Linked DNA regions of Homo sapiens. The protein of the gene in region 3 purifies or fractionates together with the protein of the main gene of each other region. This does not show direct contact. Each region holds a gene or a part of one and is shown on either strand. Other genes may lie near its edges.

Region 1 (7,026 bases), on a different chromosome or scaffold from region 3:
TTTAGTAGAGACGGGGTTTCACCATGTTGGCCAGGCTGGTCTCGAACTCCCGACCTCAGGTGATCAACCTGCCTTGGCCTCCCAAAGTGCTGGGAAGCCAGGCGTGAGCCACCACGCCCAGCCTGACTCCTCATTTTATAGGAACACAGCAAGCACGGGGAAGTTAACAGTAAAAAACACTCCAATGACTTCTCTGCTGTTTTTGCTGAAATGAGCCGGCGCTTCCTATCTAGATGCCTGAAACTAGTACATTTCCATGCCACTGCCACACACGAGCTGTCAAGAACTGAGTGGCTTAACCCGGAGCAGCGAAGATACATACCGTCTACGTGCAATTTTCTTTCTCAAAAACATAACAACCTGTGGCAGGAAAATTATCACCAAGCAAAGCTGAACTGCTTCTGCCCCCAGCCCCAGAGAAGAAAGCAAACACACCCAGGGAGAATCGCAGTCCCCATCCCAGGAGGAATTGTTCTAATGCATAGAATTGAACAGCAAATTTCCTAAAACATAAGCCTTCAAAGATATGATAAATGTGGCCGGATGCAGTGGCTCACGCCTGTAATCCCAGCACTTTGGGGGGCCAAGGCCGGCAAATCACTTGAGGCTAAGAGTTTGAGAACAGCCTGGCCAACACGGTGAAACCCCGTCTCTGCTAAAAATACAAAAATTAGCTGGGCATGGTGGTGCACGCCTGTAGTCCCAGCTACTGTGGAGGCTGAGGCAGGAGAATTGCTTGAAGTCAGGAGACAGAGGGTGCAGTGAGCCAAGATCATGCCATTGCACTCCAGCCTGGGTGACAGAGACTCTGTCTCAAAAAATAAAATAAAAAATAAAGATATGATGGATGATAAAGTGGCCAGGAATGGGTTCCCACTACCTGAACTCCAGTTGATAACGAAGATGCCTCACCTGACAGGTGATGCAATACAACCAGTGGAAGCCGCCAATCAGATTCCAACCCTGCTGCTAATGAAACTGCTGTAGGGTCCTAGGCTTAGTACCTGGGTGACAAAATAATCTGTACAACAAACCTTCGTGACATGAGTTTACCGGTGTAACAACCCTGCTCATGTACCCCTGAACCTAAAATAAAAGTTAAAAAAATGAAAAATAGGCCCGGTGTGGTGGCTCATGCCTGTAATCCCAGCACTCTGGGAAGCCGAGGCAGGCAGATTACCTGAGGTCATGAGTTTGAGACCAGCCTGGCCAACATGGCAAAACCCCATCTCTACTAAAAATACAAAAAATTAGCTGAGTGTGATGGTATGCGCCTGTAATCCCAGCTACTCAGGAGGCTGAGGCAGGAGAATCACCCGGGAGGTGGAAGTTGTGGTGAGCCAATTGTGTCATTGCACTCCAGCCCGAGCAACAAGAGCAAAACTCCATCTCATAAAAAGAAAAAGAAAAAAAGGGGAGGGGAGGCTGGGCACGGTGGCTCACGCCTGTAATCCCAGCACTTTGGGAGGCTGAGGTGGGCAGATCATGAGGTGAAGAGATGGAGACCATCCTGGCTAACACGGTGAAACCCCGTCTCTACTAAAAATAAGAAAAAAAATTAGCCAGGTGTGGTGGCAGGCGCCTGTAGTCCCAGCTACTCAGGAGGCTGGGGCAGGAGAATGGTGTGAACCTGGGAGGCAGAACTTGCAGTAAGCCGCGATTGTGCCACTGCACTCCAGCCTGGGCGACAGAGCGAGACTCCGTCTTAAAAAAAAAAAAAAAAAAGGTGGGAGAGGGGAGGGAAGGGGAGGAGGGGGAGGGGAGGGAGGGGAAAGGGGAATGAAGGAAGGGAGGAAGAAATTGCTATAGGTTAGCTGTATGATTCTGAAGACCCACCAAAAGGTGTAAGTGTCAGAACTGGACACTCCATGAAGCCAGGCTCACCTGGGAGCTCCCTGGGGCATGGCAGACCACCTGGGCAGGCTCTTGGTTGTTCCTGATATTGTCCTGTTGCTGATGAAGCAGGGCGAGGCCCGCCGCAATGTCGCTGGGCACCAGATCTGTGTCCTGGGTGGGAAACCACAATGGCCTGTCATAAAACCCAGCAGGCACCACCCCCGGGTTCCCTAAAATCCAGTCTTCTATAGTTGATAGGCATTCACGCACACACAGACATTTCTAGACACAGAGGTATGTTAAAAAGACTGCTCCTGGCAGGAGTGCTTCTCTATGTGACCTGAATATGTTTTCACATCCTGCCCTCAGACAAGTCCACTGGAGAATATAAAAATGCTATTCGTCTGTCTTAAAATTTCACTTCATGTGACTCAACTATTTTTAATCTACTTCAAATATTTTGTAAAGTGGAGAAATCAATGGATAAATTGTCCGTTTTTGTAGCAATGCACCATTTTAGCCCACGTTTATACTCTCATTTCTCAAGATGCTGGGAAGGTTTTGTTGAAACACAGTGGATGGTAGAGATTTATGAGACTAAACTCATACTCACAGGGTATGGCAAGCCTCATAAAGGACCCCAAGCTGGGAAAGCAACAGAGAGTGAGTCTTCTTAGGCCTGACATGTCCTTTTTCTCCAGGAAATGGAGGAATTAGGAATTCTCAATCACCTCCGGGTACTTGTAGCCCGTAAGAATGGACAATATACTGCCAGGTGCGATGACTCACGCCTGTAATCCCAGCACTTTGGGAGGCCGAGGTGGGCGGATCACCTGAGGTCAGAAGTTCGAGACCAGCCTGGCCAACATGGTGAAACCCTGTCTCTACTATAAATACAAAAATTAGCTGGGCGTGGTGGCAGGTGCCTGTCATCCCAGCTATTGTAGTACTCTAGCTACTCAGTACGCTGAGGCAGGAGAATCTCTCGAACACAGGAGGTGGAGGTTGTGCCAAGATGGCGCCACTGCACTCCAGCCCGGGTGACAAAACGAGACCTTGTCTCAAAAAAAAAAAAAAAAAGACAATATACTGGCCACTCAGCCACTGAGCCATCAGTTCTGCCTGTGATGTAGATTACGACATCCTCTAGAAATAACCAGCTTCTCTTCTTCCCTCTTCCAGATATCTTAAGACTAGGTTTAAGCACTTCTTTAAGTTACTGAGGGGACACGCTTCCCTCTTCCCTCTACGGAGGCTGCTGCTATGACTTGGTGTCAGGCTCCAGGACCAGCCCTGAATGGTGCCAAGTCGGATAGCACAGAGGTGGGAAGAGAGACTGGCAGGTGTGCAGGATAAGCAGAGAACTCTTCCTCCCTTACCTCATCTCAGTATGGAATTTAACAGCATTTAGCAGAGAATGTCATATAAAAAGATGACACGCTGCATGTGAAAAAAAAAAAACAAGCATTTTCAAATTGCGGAAGAACTCGCTCTAGAATGACGCTCCCTTCTGTGCTGCAATCATCTATTCAAACTGTCTTCCAAAAGTAGCATCGTCGATCATTTCCATCATGATACAAAGTGGTAAGAAGTCACTCACTATCTGATTCCAACCTCGATTCATGCCACTGCCTGTGCTTGGTATCTGCTCAACAGCAGCTGCAAATTATTCTCAAAGGGTACAGCGTCCGTTATGTGGTTCCTTACAGGCTAATCCAGCATTTTGACAGGGTAGTGAGTGGGTGTCAATACGAAGACATGTCCTATTGGGACACAGGGTCTGAGAAGGTGTGGCTCTTGCAGTTAACTGCTCCCTGGAGGGCTCATCACAGACAGAGGGTCTCCGGCCACCCCCCACACACCCAAAGACACCAGGTTCTCAAACGCGGTTTTATGGGAACAGAGGGACCGGCTCCATCAGAAGCATTTACTGAAACAGAAGAAACAGACCAAACCAGATCCCCTCGGCTTACTGAAAAGTAGGTTGAGAAAAGCTCTGCCGTACTCGAAAAAGCAACCCGAGTATGGTCGTCTTTCCCAATGCAACAGCACAAGAGCTTGATTCTGGTTTCCCACACGCTTGTAGCTGCTGTCTTGAGGCCATTAAGTAACTGGCTTGAATCATGACTATCCAGGTGGCTGGGGCCGGCAGAGGAATATGGAGCCATTTTCCCCCCAAGAGGGTCAAAGACAATGATAATGGAAACCACTGTGGCAGCGATGATGATCCAACTGCAAGACAGAGAGAGGAAAAGGCTCGGTGACTGCGGGCCCCAGCCCAGACGCAGATGTCCGGGGTCCCTCCTCCAGGTTCAGTTTCTGAGTCTCTACCACGGAGGGTTCTGTTACCGAGGAAGATGCAGCTCTCCTGGAACCTGCCTGAGGCAAGCAACTTTCTTCTAGAAAGTTCCTTATGAGGCTGGGCATGGTGGCTCACACCTGTAATCCCAGCACTTTGGGAGGCCGAGGCCGGCAGATCACGAGGTCAGGAGATCGAGACCAGCCTGGCCAACATAGTGAAACCCCGTCTCTACTAAAAACACAAAAATTAGCTGGGTGTGGTGGCACGTGCCTGTAGTCCCAGCTTCTGAGGAGGCTGAGGCAGGAGAATCGCTTGAACCAGAGAGTCGGAGATTGCAGTGAGCCGAGGAGGCGCCACTGCACTCCAGCCGGGCGACAGAGGGAGACTCCGTCTCAAAGAAAAAAAAAAAAAAGTTCCTTATGAATCAGTGGTTAACCCAGGCCCTGCCCTAACAGTAAAGGCCACAGAAGGAACAGGGAGGTGTCCGCTGGGCAGAGTTGCAGCCTGCGCCCGGATGCAGCGGGCACTTCTTCTCCATATGGCCCTGGGACCATGACATACGCCCTTCCCCTTCGGTGCCTCAGGGCTCTTCTCATGAAGGTATCACAGAGTACTCTGATAGGCCTCTCATCTATATGTTTAAATATTTCACACTGCAAGACGCCGGATTGAGGAGCACACGCAACCGGGAAATGCCCCTCCCGAAGGGGCTCTGCTGCCCCCTGGCGGTGTGACTCGAGAAACGCAGCAACAGCCCAGGTCTGATTCCTTATTTAGAACAGAGGGTGTTAAGGGGGCGGGACTGGATCATCTCTAAGATTTTTAGCCTAGAAAACACGAAAACCTTATTGTTCTAGAATATTATTCCCTGTCCCACTTCTGGACACCGTATCTCTTTTCATACCTTTAGTTTTAGTTTTTGCTCTGGTTTTGGTCTTTGGTTTTCTTCCGAATTCTTATAAGAGAAGGGTTAGGAATAAAAGACTTTAAGAAAAAAAGAAAAAAAAAAAAGAGAGAGAGACAGAAGGGAATGTAGAAAATAAAGAACCAGTAAGGAAAGAAATCTACATCAATACGTGCATAACGAAAGACGAGTTGTATTTCATGGACAAACAGTGTCTCTAAATTTTCATGAGTTACGCAGAAACTAACTCCAATTTCTAACTATTTGAGGAAGTCCGAGGGACGCTGGACTCTCTGTCATGTTAGAAGGGTTTGTTCACCTATGCCTCAAATCCACTGAAACTCAAAGAGAAGAAGGGAGATGTCACCTGACCACGACGGTTGCGATGATGCCGTTTACAACTGTCCTGTCGCACTGAACACCATCTGCCACCCAGGCAGCCCCCAGAGAGGCCCAGACCATCTCTGGAAAAAACAGCGCCAGGCGGATGTAAAGCAGCTTAGACATAGACTTCCGCGGTCCAGGGTTACAAATCGTTCCTGAAATACAAAAAACGTTCCGACTGCTCAGTTGCTTCCTCAGAGATGAAGAGCTTCCTTTTTGCAAAAATACAGCTTTTGCAGAGCATACATTTGTACTGTGCACACCCGCCTCCTGACTTTTTCTACTTATAATTGGTAATCAGCACCTAAGTCAGACAGCAAGTGAGAAAATGAGGATGGGAAACGTGACAAGAAGTCCTGGGCTCTTTTTTAAGATTTAGCAGGGATTAAAAACACTTCTGGGTTCTCACTGGGGTGACAATATAATCATGGCCCAAACTGGTATACTTCTGAGAGGAAAAAAGGGGACTATTAATAATTATGCTGGGGCCGGGCACGGTGACTCACACCTGTACTCCCAGCACTTTGGGAGGAGGCCAAGGCAGGTAGATCACCTGAGGTCAGGAGTTCGAGACCAGCCTGGCCAACATGGTGAAACCTCATCTCTACTAAAAATTAAAAAATTAGCGAGGCGTGGTGGCGGGCGTCTGTAATCCTAGCTACTTGCGAGGGAGGCTGAGACAGGAGAATCGCTTGAACCCAGGAGGCGGAGGTTGCAGTGAGCTGAGATTGCGCCACTGCACTCTAGTCTGGGTGACAGAGCAAGACTCCGTCTCAAAATAATAATAATAATAATAATAATAATAATAATAATAGTAATAATTATGCTGAGACAACAGGCACAAAACAGAACTGTCCCAGGCAAACAGGGATATATGGTCACCCAAGTTCTAACAGCCATGAAAACAAGCTCCACGTCCCTTTGAGACCTACATTGTTCTAGACACCAACCTAAAACACTTTATGTGCGTAGTTCTGTAATCCCCACAATGACTGGGTTAGTCATTATCTCATTTTACGTATGAGCAAGCAAACTGAAGCTCAGAGAGCGTAATAGCTACCATTCTTTTTGGAGACAAGGTCTCACTCTCTTGCCCAGGCTGGAGTGTGGTGGCACAATCATGACTCACTGCAGCCTCCACCTCTCAGGCTCAAGTGATCCACCCACCTCAGCCTCTCTGGTAGCTAGGACTACAGGTGCACACCACCACGCTGAAATAGGCCTCATAGTCCCATAGACAGTTGTTTTTTTGTGGGCGTTTTTTGGTTAATTTTTGTTTTTGTTTTTTTAGATGGAGTCTCACTCTGTCGCCCAGGCTGGAGTGCAGTAGTGTGATCTCAGCTTACCACAACCTCCGCCTCCCAGGTTCAAGTGATTCTCCTGCCTCAGCCTCCCTAGTAGCTGGGATTAGAGGCATTACACCTGGCTAATTTTTGTATTTTTAGTAGAGACTGGGTTTCACCATGTTGGCCAGGCTGGTCTTGAACTCCTGACCTCAAGTGATCTGCCCGCCTTTGCCTCGCAAAGTGCTGGGATTACAGGCATGAGCCACAGCACCCTACCAGGAAATAGCTTTTAAATTCAAAAAATTATCTTCTGT
Region 2 (7,026 bases), on a different chromosome or scaffold from region 3:
TGTTGGCCACAGTAATATTTGATTCCCCTGCAGTGTCTAGCATATTGCCTTATCTGTATTTGTTAAATGGGGAAGAGTGAGGGAACATTATGAGAGCAGAGAAAAGACAAAAAACTTGTCTTCCAGGTGTCATGATACAGCTAATACTTACTGAGTAAAGGGTCCTGAAGCTGATACAGTTTGTTCAGTCTCTTATAAGAACTAATATTAAGTTATGGATACATAATTGCTGGGGCTTCTCCTCTAACATTGAAAGAGTTCTATTCTAGTGAGAAATGCTGAAGGTTAAGCTTCATTAGCTATGTATAACTCTTCCTCAGATTCAGAAAATACTATGTCCAGGCACTGTTCTAAGTCTATTCTTGTTTAAACTTAACTCTAAGAGAATTTGACAAAGAAAAAAAGAACACAAAGAGAATAAGTAACTTGACCACTGTCACAAAGTTTAGCCTTATGAAGTGTGGTAATTGTAAATGAGGTAGGATTAATCCATGAAGGGTCTTGAATGCCCTAAACAATTTGTATGACAGTCAGTGGGAAGTTGTCCATGTAAGTTTTGGAGCTAGAGACTCAATACGATCAATGTAAGAAAAGTAGGCAAATATGCTTAGTAAGTAAATAAGCTTGTGTAAATTATGAAAAAAACAGAAGATACTAGAGAAAAAATTATTAAGTCTCCTAAGGAATACAGGAACTGGATAATTTGATTGGAATAGTTGAAAATGAGAAGAGGAGGCAAATTTAAGGGTTTACTATGAAGGAAAGATGAGCAGCTTTTGGTAATGGGCTATAAATATTGAGAAGGAACACTTAGGTATTGAGTATCTTCTGTGACTATGCTAGGCATTTTCATTATTTTATTCGGCCGTCAGTCAACAGGCAAAGAAACTGAAGTTTACAAAAGTAACTTGTCAAAACTCTCTTCACATGAGTTATAAAATAGTTGAGCCTATTTTATCCTATATCCACTAATCTGTTTGTATATCTAATACACTAACTCTGAGCAGAAGTAGCAGTCTCCCCAAGGAAGTAGGAAAATAGGAAGGAAGTATACTTTATAGGAAGGTGAATTCAGTTTTATTGGTAACTATCATTTATTTCAAGCCCGTGTCTAAGTGGTGGTACATCTCAAGCAGTTAGAAATAAGGAAATGGTGATTGGGAGCCACTAGAATGAGTTAAATGTTGGCTTGGGTGAGTTCTCAGAGAGTGGTTGTAATGATGGGGCTTAGAAAAATTAAGAACTGGCTAGGGATGGTGGCTCACCTGTAGTCCCAGCACTTTGGGAGACCAAGGAAGACAGATCGCTTGAGCCCAGGAGTTTGAGACGAGCCTTGGCACCATAGCGAAACCTCATTTCTACAAAAAATTAGCCAGATGTGGGGGTGCACACCTGTAGTCTCAATCACTTGGGAGGCTGAGGTGGGAGGATTGAGCCCAGGAGATTGCGGTAAACTGAGATGGTGCCACTGCACTCCATCCTGGGTGACAGAGCGAGACCCTGTCTCAAGAAAATACTAAATAAAAGAAAATTTAAGAAGTGAATCAATCTCAAAAATGCTTAATTAGAGAACAGAAAAATAAAAGATTTCTCAGTGGATATAGAGCCTGAGCCAATGCAGTATATTTTGGCAATCCATTTTTAATTAGTTTTTGGAATTGGCAGATAGTTTTTGAGATTTTTCTATACTTAACACCCCAGAGCATAGATAAAAACATGCAAAAATAAGTATTCCTGTAAAGGTTACATTTCTGCCTTTTCCAGTTTATTGTGATCTTCACTTTGCAGCAAGACTTTAGCAACACAGAAACTCTTAAGGTATTGAAGACAATCCAATATGTTTTTGAAAAGCAATTTTATTTTTGTTTTATTACTCTTGAGTTTGAAAAATGCATGTTCAGAGGAACTTGGAAAATGTATTGGCCATTTTTAATATTATTCAGTTCTGTAGAGGAAAAGTTAAAGTTGATGCCAGCTTACTAAAGATTATTATTTTTATTTTGATATAGTTACAGCTGTTATAAATTTTCATATAGGAATAACAACAAAAGTAGAGTTTAGCAATAATTGACTTTATACTTCCGTTGATTTAGAAGGCTTCATGCAGTCTTTGGTGTCAGAATGAGAGACTACATACATAACTGAACATACTTCTCTGTTGAATATGTTAATTATGACAAGGACCAAAACAAATATCATGAAGGTACTTAGGAGAGGATGAAAGCATACGAAGAATAAACAATAATTTTAACCAAAATCTGGCTTTCGTTTTATTCTTCAAATGTTAGAAGAAAATGTTATATTTTATTTCTTACAGATTTATTTATAATATTGTAAAAATTACTGAAAATCATTATGCAATCTAGAAAATCTCAACTTTTCACTTTTTGTAATCATTTTACTGTTTATGCTTAGAATTAAGTTGGACTTTTCACGTTTTGGTTTTAAAATTAGATTGCTGTTTCACAAAGTTTGGATTTCTAAAATACTTCTATTTTTTGTTTTCTTCTCTCTTCCCTTCCCCTTCCCACTCCCAGTGGACAAACTACATTCATGGGTGGCAGGATCGTTGGGTAGTTTTGAAAAATAATGCTCTGAGTTACTACAAATCTGAAGATGAAACAGAGTATGGCTGCAGAGGATCCATCTGTCTTAGCAAGGCTGTCATCACAGTAAGTTCCTTTTCTTCTTCATTCAACAAATATTTATTGAGTGTCAGCTACATACCAGGAACTGTTCTACGTGTTCAGGATACATCCGTGGATAAGATAAAGATCCTTGTCCTTGTAGAATATACATTCTAATACTTTTTTCCATAAAGTGATTTTACTGTGGTTTTTACTACATATTGTTATTTTGCATAGACATGTAGTTTTTATCTGGTGGGTATATCAAACCAGTTTAAGGGCTTCAGGAAAAAAAAATGTTTGAAGCCTTTTTATTTGTTGAGGCTGGGACAGTTACTTTGTAGGTTACTGAATATTTAAAAATAATACATCTTGTAAGTAACATTCTAAAATTTTAACTTAAAAATATAAATGTAAATTCATTTTTAAACTTTTTAACATTGAGCTAATGCCATCTCTTTGTGGAGTTGGGAGAAGCTGTTCTCATGTTCCTCACACATGATTTGCTATTTACAGTTTTGATTTCTCTAATGTGGAATAAAAGCCTGAAGATAACTTTTGAAAAACTCTAAGTATAGGCTCCTTCTAACTTTTTATGATTTCCCCTTATATTTTGCAGTTACATCACTTTTCTCCAATTCAACACCCTTTAAAAGAATAACTCACCTTCGTTGAGTCATTCTACTTAGTTTACATTTTGTTGTTCTTTTTTTGTTTTTTTGTTTTGTTTTGTTTTGTTTTTGAGACAGTCTTGCTCTGTCACCCAGGCTGGAGTGCAGTTCTGTGGTCTCAGCTCACTGCAACCTCGACCTCCCAGGTTCAAGCAATTCTTCTGCTTCAGCCTCCCAAGTAGCTGGGACTATAGCCACGTGCCATCACGCCCGGCTAATTTTTGTATTTTTAGTAGAAATGGGGTTTCACTGTGTTGGCCAGGCTGGTCTCAAACTCCTGACCTCAAGTGATCCACCCACCTCAGCCTCCCAAAGTGCTGGGATTACAGGCATGAGCCACCGCGCCTGGCCTACTTAGTTTACATTTAACTTAGTATATAGAAACAACTGTTCCTTTTTGCACTCGTAGTCATTAGACATGAATAATGTTTAAGATATGTAAGAACTATAACAAGTAAACTGGCATAAACAGGTTTGGGAACAACCAACTGACTTGTTAAGCATGTAACCCAACTAGTGAGAACAGAAGTACCTGATAATACAAAAAATAGCATACTGGTTAAGAATGGTCAGCATGCCATGGGCCAAAAAAAAAAAAAAAAAAGTGTTGGCTAAGGCCAGACAGTTAAATAGAGGTCAGTTAAGGGAGCTGTTGTAGTTAAAATCTGAAAATGGGTACGTTAAAACAAAAATACAGAGTTTACTAACTCACTCAAAGAGAAGTCACATTTTGTGATAGAATTTATTTGGCTTATAAAAGTGAAAGATATATATATAATACTTCAGATTTCCGTTAATATCTAATCCTTACTTAGCGTATGTTTGTTATGCATTTAGGGAAAATCTTACAGTATTTTTACATTATTTTTTATACATTATTTCCCCCCTTGTATATTCAAAGTTTGAAAACAAAAGTTTAGAATTGAATATCAAGTTAGAGAAACACAGAAGAAATATTTGGAAGTGTTGATAATGAAACTACGCTCTCTATTCTTAGAGACAATTTTTAGGAAATAGCTTTAACATAAAGGCTCAGTATTTATTTTGACTGGTATGTGGTACATTGTAATGTGTTTAGAAATTGTATCTAGTTTAATATTTTGGGTGTTTTTCTTCCGAGATAGATCATTATTCATATCAATGGACAGAATAGTGGATTGAAATGTACCTTGCGATCTTGAAGTGTTTTTCCTTGATCCTCCACTCCCCTTCTTTTGCGTATTATTATTGGATGTTTATTAGTTGCAATGCTTAACTCTTTGAAAATAGTATAATGATTGATGTAAAAATGGGGAGGAATTAAATTTTATCTTTATTATTCTCTAAGTAGTAGTATTCCTAGAGTACCATGCTAGTTTCTGTGGATTTAAATATAGTTATTCTGTCTTGAATTATGGACTATAATAATGTTGCCTGGCTTATTTGGAGAAAAGAAAATTTTAAATTAAACATTTAATTTAAATGTTTAATTTAAATTAAACAAAAAATTTAAATGTTTAATTTAAATTAAACAAAAAATTTAAATTTTAACATTTATATCCATCTTCTCAGGAAGAAAACAGTGTTACTTTATTGTAATTGATTTTTGTTATAGCTATATGTACATGCATAACTTTCATTGTGGTACATAGTAAAAGACATGCGTAGGAACAAGAAACAATTTGAATTCTTTGAAGGAGAGATAAAAGTAGAAGTAAAAAGATGAATTAGGCAACAAAATCTGTGTGGTAGTCTTAGATACAATGAAATGGATGATAGGAAAAAACACAAGCATTTATATTATTGAACTTGAACTTTCCTTGCCCTTTGGGTTCACAGACTCCATGTTACATATTTAAAGGAAATTAAAAATATAACTGAATTCAGTGAACTCAGGATGAGTTTACAAATTAGAGTATGTACTTTAGTTAAATAAATAAATGTAATAGTAATATTCCTCATTAAATTTTAATAGGCATCTCTTGGTATTTTTTTTCCTTAAATATGGGCTATGCCTATTGTCACTTCATGTCAGAATACAAAGAATGTAAATGTTTAATTTCTTTATATGGCACTCTTATGAAATTGATAATATTCACGTACAAAGAAATCTGGGCTTGAAGAGTTGATGTGACTTTACTGTAACCATTCATTACTATATTATTTGTTGGTGGACCTAGCATCTGAACCCACATTTCTTGATAGAGCCTAATCCATTTTAAGTTCATTCTTAGTTTAATGATTAAATCACTCTTAATTTATAAAAACAATATTCTTTATCTGTGTGATAATAAAGTGGGTGAAATAATTTCAAGGAAGAAAGTATGTCTTGAGAGAATTTATTCCTTAATGTGAAAGGATTGACAGTAAGTAGGTGAGAGGAAAAATAGTATTCCCTTACTTTGTGTAAAAAGAGCTATTTGTATGTAGAATAAGTGTTTGTAGAAAGACAGTTGAATTCTTCAGTTATTATAGCTTGATACTTAGAAGACCCAGCCCCTGCTACAAAATTTGCCGCATAGTAGATATTCTGAATATGTTAGTTGTAATTGTTTCAATTAAAAGCAAATGTTTATGGAATATTTACACTGTTTACTTTTTATATTCTATTTTTAAAATAAAGTGCACATGATAAAAAATATAATTTGTGGCATTAAAAAGTTTAAGAAGTACATGCTGCTTTTTAGTCTTGCACTTGAGGGACAACCAAACTTAAATTTCTGGTCATCCTTTCAGAAAATATGTAGGACTATACAAGGATTTGTTTATATCTTTCATAAATATTTACACAAATGGTATCATATTAAGCCTATTGTTCTGCACCTTGTTTTAATACAACTTACACATTAACTGTTATATTCTGTTGAATCGTGTGGATATATTATATTTATTTGCCTGGACCCTGTTTTTGCACATTTAAATCATGCCTAATTTTTATTACAATCATTATTGAAACAAATATGTACTTTAAAATTTGTTTTTAGTTATTGTCAAATACTCCTTCAAGAGTACCACTCCTCACTCCTACCAGTAGTGAATGAGTGCCTCTGTTTCTCCTTACCCGCAAGTATTGAGGAAGTTGGGTTTGGCAAATGTTAAAGTATTTGTCAAACTGCTACATTAAAATGGTATCTTATTATTTTAAATTGCACTTTTTATCCATGAGGTTGAGTAACTTAATAATTTATAGCCCATTTTTATTTCTTTTTCCTTTTCCAATTGCTTATGCACTTTTTTTTTGGTTTTTCTTTCCTTTTTGGCTTGTAGAAACTCTTCATATGGTAATTAACCATTTGGCACATTTGTTGCAAATATTTTCCCCCACATTGTCACTTGTCTGTTTCTTCTTTGCTTGTTTTATAGTCTATATTAGGCCCTAGAGAAATCTTAGATTTTTACATACTCTTATTGACATCTTTTATTACGGCTTCTGTATTTACTTGTTTAGATAGGTGTTTCTCTCTCAAAGACTATCTCTCTATATGAATGTAGATATATTTTCATCTAAAATTTACACTTGAATTTTGATTCCTGTGGAAGTTATTTTAGTTTAAGGAGTGATATTGATGTTTTTAGTTTTTTTTCCACATGACTAATTATGTATCCTGGTAGCATTAATTAAATAACTAACCTTTTTCCAAGTGGTTTCAAACACCACTTTCATCATATATTACGGTCCCATATTTATTTAAGGTTGTTTCTGGACTCTCTTCTGGGCATTTGGCTTGTCCTTCTTATCCTCTGTTTAA
Region 3 (7,026 bases):
ACTAGCTTATTCCCATTCCCTTCTAATTTCCACCCCACCTTATCATTTGATCTGCTATGTTGCTCCTATTAGTATGTTAGTAGGATATGGTCTCTTCTGGATAGAATCCTTCAAAGAAAGGGAACTGTAGTTCCTGAGGCAGGTTCCCACACCATCCTCTCCTGATCCTCAAACCCAGGTTGTCCTTAGTTAGTAACTGAGTCAGCAGAGGGCAGTATGACCCAACCCAAAGAACCATATATTAATGCTTCTACAGTTGCCTCCAAGGAAGTAGCAACTCATGAGTAAGTTAAGGTTTCAGATGTTTTACTTCATTTTTCTTTTATTACAGATGATGAGTACATTTGGAAAAACAACTGGTTGCATTTAGCTATATAACTGTATTATATCTATGAGCTTCTGGTGAATGATTATCTTAGGGTTTTTTTTGTATTTATGTTATTCCCAGCACTCCCAGACACATATCAAATATTGAATTAGTGAATGCATGAATGGAAAATGGATAATTACAGATTGATGTTCCAAATACCTTTTTCCAAAAAAACAAGTCATCACATACCTATAGGATTAAATAGATTTCCCTTAATATTTTCAAAGGTCTCTCTGCACTTACGTCCATTGTTTTTAAAACATGAAGGAAATTAAAACACATGGCTTTCTTAATCAGTCAACCTAGAATTTTTTGTCTGTAACTTAGACTGACAAATACTATCTATTGTAGCAGGGGTAATGACTAGCAACTCCCTAAAGCAATGTTGGTTGCAGAGATCAACACTGATAATCATGATTTTAGGATAACCAGTTTATCTACAGCTACCCTTGTGGTCCTGGGATGAATGGTGGGTTATATATCAGCATATGTAACACATATACCCATGTCCCTGCATAAGGGAGAATGCATCACCTCTCTAACATGCATCACACATTTTCCTCAACACTGACCTAAAATGTTTGTCAGTGAGAATTTTAAGAATTCAAAATTCAACAAAATTATTGTTTAATGTGAAGCAGTAGAAAAAACAGAGTCTTAACAACTCCCCAAAGCAATGTAATACAGGCAGCCTTTGGTTTTTTAAAGTGTAGATCATAATAAAAAGATGTCTTTCACTACACTCCGCAGAGGCCATTGATCAAGGTAGAAATAAAGGGGGAGTACATGGCATGTACTTCAGGACTTCAACTAAAGGGTAATTGTGGAATGAGAATTTCAAATACAACATAGTAACTGAAACACTAGAAACCAAAGTATGTGTCTGGGATCCCTGCTTGCAGAAAAACATTTATGAAGCTAGTAAGGGGCGTCTTCACCAGCAGCAGGCCAAATGCCGGCAAGTGCTCTGTAGGAGGGGCCACTTAGGAAAGTACCAGGGCTGCCTTGGAGTGGAGAAGGAGGAGTGGCCACCAGAGGGTATACAAGTGGTTGCCCTTTAAAAGAAGAGGCTCAGGAGCAGACATGTCTTTATGCTAGCCTGAAGTCATGCATGTGTGGCTATACATAGCCTGTGATTCAGAAGACTTTTCAACTTTGGTTTTCATAAAAATGGCAAGCAATGATGGATTACATTTTAAAAGTGAAAGCCCTTGTAGTATGAGTAATGATTCAGTTTTACTAATAAAAGGATCTCCGTATTGCTCAGATTTTCAGAGAAACAAAATGGTCAACTGGTGTGTTATTCCTTCCTCGTCCCTCTGATAACGGTACTGACAAACTGGAAAATAATGAAATATTAGAGCAAAAGAGAAATGTGTAATAACACAAGAGAAGTCTATTAGGATATAAGGAAGATAAGTAGACAGAGCAGGCTTAAAATGAAGCTTGAACAAGCCATCTGCAGAAACAGAAAACAGGGTAGATGGGACACCCAAACAGGGTGCCACAGCTTTCCAACTTAGATCCAGGTTATGAGAGAATGAGCCAAGAACACAACCTAAAAGTTTTCAATTTGAGGTATATTCACTGTTGCTATTCTATAGTATTAATCAAAATATTATTGACTAATAATCCTGTTATTATTAATCACAACTTTTGGTTTTGAGTCTTAGTTTTTTAACAGCAATATTTTTTGTAACACCAGGAAAATCCTCACAAGTTATTGCCCCAGGGGCTGGAATCTGGAGCTAGCGTCCCTAAGAGACTAATATGGGAGAATTTGAAACATCTGCTATTTCTACCATAATTCTTATTCCCAATCAACATTACACCACATACCACAGCAAAAAGGACAATTAGATACTAGTTTTGAATTAATTTGAAAAGTTTAAAGACAACAAAAAGAAACAGCCCTCTGTTTCTGTAACAGAGTCTGGAAACTGCCCAAGAATTACAACGAAGTTCTTTAATGAGGTAGATGTAATAGGCATTTATACCTTCATCTAGGCTGTAGTCATCTAATGAATTGCTTGGATGTTGTAGTAAAGGAAATTGTATAAAATTGTTTTAAAAAGATGTATAAAATTTAAAAGTACGAAAAGAAATACAGGAACAAGAATAGATGTAGTGAAAACTTGGCACTATTTCTGACAAAGTATTTTTTTCAAAGTTTATTCCTAAATGTGAGCAAAGCAGTCATAAATGAATGTCAGAAGCAGTTGTAAAGATGGGGCATGGTTAGTTGTGGCCAGCTGTTTTATAAAAAATAGATTCTGTTTATACTTGCAGAAAGATTCTGTTAATGAGCATTTCATTGTAGCTGACAAAGTAGTTGGGCTAGGAGGCCAGTCACTATGACTTTGCACATATTACAACTGCTCTAGGCCTCAGTTTTATCACCCATATAAATCAAGGGGGTTGACCAGAAGCTTTAAAACTCTTCTGAAATTTATTATGATTACTATTAGAAACTCTGTTCCCACCAACCTTATCATCAGGGGTTATGGATAAAATAGGAGGCTCTTTTGGGCAGCCTGGTCTTCTAAACCAAAGGACAAAATGCTCTTCCCAAAATCATATGATTTTTCTACCTTGTCTTCTGCCTTTAGTTTCTAATCTTGTCTAGCCTCTTTGTTTGATAGATGAGAACCGAACCAGAGATGGTAAGTGACTGGCCTGGGGTACCAGAGCTAGTAAATGACAAAGCCAGAACTAGAATCCAGGTCTGCTATTCGTTAAGCCTACTGTTCTTTCCCTTAAGTGATACCACTCACTTGTCTTTCATCCCTGACAAAAAACAAAACATAAAACTGTGAGAAGCATCTGTTTAGATGATATCAGTGAGAAGTATAAATTATTTCAAAAATATAAATATGGATGTGATAATAAATGTTAATGCCTAAAAACACTAGCTTAGCAAGTGCATGGCAGACATTTTTCAGCAATCACTGGATATGATCTTGAAGTTAAAGGAATCTCTTAGGATGAGGAGGGGGTGGGGCAGGATACTTTGGAAGACATTTGGAGAATAAATAGAAGATTGGTGGAAAGTGATGAAAATTTCCCAGACCAGAATAGACACTGTGGACTACTAGAGCAGGGAGGGAGAGAGGAGGGCATGGATTAAAGAACTATCTGTTAGGTACTATGCTCACCACCTGGTGATGGGATCTGTACCCCAAACCTCAGCATCACTCAATATACTCATGTAACAAACCTGCACTTGTACCCCCTGAATTTGTTCCTTGGTGTGGGAACAAAAGTTTCCCAGATTAAGGAAATTCAAGGAGCTAAAGTACAGAGAGAAAAAATGGTATAATTTGGCTTAGAGTTAACTGCAACTTAAGTGAATGAAATGCCACATAAATGGGTATTTTACATATTTTTCATTATGTTCTATGACAAGAATTTTGGGGAAAGTGATGGATTGTGCTATCACAAGACTAAAAAGCATCACTACAAGCCACGGACTCCTATTTTGATGTTTGTGACCTGTCTCAGTAATAACAAGAGTCCTAAAACAGTTCAGGTTCATTGTCTCTGTTAACAAGAGTGGTTGGTAAGATTCAAAGGAACCAGTGGAATGTGAATTTTATGACACCATAATTATCTTCATGGGAGAACCACCAAAGTGCAGAAATGCAAATAGAAGAGAAATCTTTAAAAACCAAAGGGTATGGCAAGATAGATTTCTGCTCCTAGAAGCAAATTATTTTATTATAAGGAAGAAATATATTTAAGTAATTGGCTCTCAGCAAGGAGTAAGTGGCTTTTGTTTCTAGCTAATAAGATTTCATTTAAAATCTATTAATTGGGAGAAGAGAATAAACAAAGGAGCCCATACCAATAATAAATATTCAGTTCTTCTGAGGGATATGACAAAATTTTCCTTCAGTACTGTGGAACTCCTGGAGACCTTGCTCATGGTAATAAAGACAAGCCTAGATACCATAATATTAAAGTAATGAACAGGAAATAACACATTAAACACTCCAAGACAAAATAAGAATAAGAAATACATATATATTGAAAAAGTGATAAATGTAGGTATCCTGAGATTCTCAACTATAAAAAGAACAGTAATAGCAATTTGAATAATACACATAAAATCCTTAAGAGTGTCTGCTACATAACAAAGGCATAACAAATAATGGCTATTATTACAGCCAGGATGAAGAATACTAATAAGAGCTTTCAAACTGGACCAACCACTACTTCCGTGTTTCAAGTTCATTTTTAGCACATGAACATGATCACTGTTAGCCAGTGAAGTAGCTTCTGACTAGATCATTGATTAGATCTCACAAAAAACCAAAAATAGTATATGGAAACCAAGATGAGAGCAAAAGAAAACGTTACCTGAGTAGGCAGCTAAAACATATTTTGACATTATTTTTAAGCAGCATTCATAAGGTTCACGGAGCACAGATAATAAAAGAAAAAGCAATGTAGAAGTCTTAAAAACCAAAGGAAATTGCTATGAAAGAAACCCTAATGAAAGGTAAGAGATTTCCAAAGGAAACAGAGGGCAGGTGCAGTAGCTCATGCTTGTAATCCCAGCACTTTGGGAGGCTGAGGTGGGAGGATTGCTTGAGCCCAAGAGTTTGAGACCAGCCTGGACAACACAGACTCCATCTCTAAAAAAATAAAATAAAAAATTAGCTGAGTGTGGTGGCGCACACCTGTAGTCCCAGCTACTCTGGAGTCTGAGTTGGGAGGACTGTTTGAGCCCAGGAGGTTGAGGCTGCGGTGAGCCATGATGTTGCACAACTGCACTCCAGCCTGGGTGACAGCGTGAGGCCCTGTCTCCAAGAAAAAAAAAAAGGAACAGAGTCTTTGCATGCTTAATCCATGTTTATCTAATTTTAAAACAATACAAGACTGGTCATCTTTTTATCTACCAACCAAGGGTCAGTATACTTATTTTTATCTTAGTTTATTTCTAGGATGATCTTAATTTCTTTTTCCCTGTTTTATGAAGCATTTAGTTCCTTTCTGTTCCCAGTATGAAATTTATTTTTGAAGAATTCTACTTTTGTTTTCTTTAAAGCCAGGGACTTTTTCCCCTATTAATCTAATCCCAAAAATCAAAGGTGACGAAAAGAAAAGAAAATGCTCCCAGCCGTGGGAGCATATTCGTGGAAAGGACATTCAAGGCTACATGTAGGAAAGGGTAAAATATAAGAAAGATTCCATGCGGACCCTGATGAAGAGAAATCCTCATGCAATTTAATGGCTAAATGTGGAGGAGAAGCAAAGCTCTGGAAGGGTAGTGGGTGAAGATGTAATTATTATGGCTTTTCCTCTCGCTTCATTAATGGAAGTGCTGTTTGTGACTCAGCAGTCTCTTAATAGAGGTTCTGAAAGTTGCCAGATGGCTTATTAACAGATTGATCTATTCCAAATTTGCTCCCTTTCAGACATTCCAAGAGTCATAAATTGAGAAACTTCTATTTCTCAGAAATAATTAATAAGAACTTTGATTTTATTGCCTTTGCCCACTCTCCTGATTCTGTTCCCCTTTTCTTTAAAAACAACCCAAATACATTCCCCATACTACATACTGATTTTAGCAGTGAAATGAAAGAACTCTCTTTATATCTTCCTGTGTAAGGGCTCACAAAAACAGGCCCAGGGAACAGTGACCTAAAATCAGACAAATCCAGGTTCCCAGTCCCCATCACAGTTTCTCCATCCTACTAACACACTTAAGGCTCAAAAAGCAAAATTAATGCCCAAACAGCCTGTGAGGCACATAAAAATGGAAAAATTTTCTATCCTCATCATACCAGGCATCAGATAAGATACTAAAATCTTCCACAGACCATTCATTTAGAAGGGGTTCTAACCTTTAAAATCATGTACTAACATCATCAACACTACGACAGGGATCTTGGATCACACCCATGATGGCTTCTTTGTCAAGGAAGCAAGGAAGTTATATCATTTTGGTGCCTGGAAATTCCTATGTGGTCGATTGAACTGCAAAGATCTTGGATCCCTGTTAAAGGTTGTGGATCTCCACATAAATGATATCTCTGTTACAGAGAAAGAAGGGGCTGCTGCACTTGCTAGAATGTCTCTGGCTTTGTATCAGATGCTACAAATTTCATTTCAACCAGGCTTCCAGTGTGCCAAATGCCAAACTTCATGCTTTAGCAAGGGAAGAAAAGGTGAGATTCTAGGAACACACCAGACCTCTCAGAAGGAGTCGAAGCCTGCTTCACTTGGACAAAGCTTGGTCCCCCGTATTAGCACCAATCTCCTGTCATTTAGTTCCTCACAGATTAAATTATAGCTTCTCTCAGAGAAGACCTGGGTACGGAGAAGGAATTACGGTAGAAAGTAAAGTAGAAATTCCAAGGGCAAATATCCACAAGGTCAGACATCACAGCATCTGAGGCTATATAAGAAAGTGGAGGAATTCAATGAGCAGCAACTCGGGGGTGCTCAAGCTTCTCTAGTCCTGGTCCAGCCTCACGGCCCCACCTGTACTCCCATCATGGGCACCACCTCTTCAAGCCACAGCAAGTCCAATGGAGCTGAGGCTCGTGTTTGTCGGTGGTGAATTCGGCGTAGCCGCAGAAGGTATAGGAAGATGGCCAGTAGCACCACCAGGATACAGGCAAAGAAGAGATAGTGGTTGTATACAAAGG

What was found. The genes of interacting proteins can lie anywhere in the genome.
Region 1: the proteins of ENTPD7 (region 3) and DAGLB purify together in Homo sapiens (affinity purification with mass spectrometry; 2 studies listed by BioGRID and IntAct, with this or other methods). This does not show direct contact.
Region 2: the proteins of ENTPD7 (region 3) and CERT1 purify together in Homo sapiens (affinity purification with mass spectrometry; 2 studies listed by BioGRID and IntAct, with this or other methods). This does not show direct contact.

The regions. Positions count from the first base shown.
Region 1 is NC_000007.14:6,430,953-6,437,978, forward strand, and holds part of DAGLB (diacylglycerol lipase-beta), read right to left. Parts: intron 5,582-7,026; coding exon 5,410-5,581; intron 4,069-5,409; coding exon 3,810-4,068; intron 2,008-3,809; coding exon 1,885-2,007; intron 1-1,884.
Region 2 is NC_000005.10:75,501,628-75,508,653, reverse strand, and holds part of CERT1 (ceramide transfer protein), read left to right. Parts: intron 1-2,537; coding exon 2,538-2,672; intron 2,673-7,026. UniProt on the Homo sapiens protein: Shelters ceramides and diacylglycerol lipids inside its START domain and mediates the intracellular trafficking of ceramides and diacylglycerol lipids in a non-vesicular manner.
Region 3 is NC_000010.11:99,704,505-99,711,530, reverse strand, and holds the end of ENTPD7 (ectonucleoside triphosphate diphosphohydrolase 7), read right to left. Parts: coding exon 6,848-7,026; 3' UTR 290-6,847; downstream 1-289. UniProt on the Homo sapiens protein: Catalyzes the hydrolysis of nucleoside triphosphates and diphosphates in a calcium- or magnesium-dependent manner. Preferentially hydrolyzes nucleoside 5'-triphosphates, with substrate preference for UTP > GTP > CTP.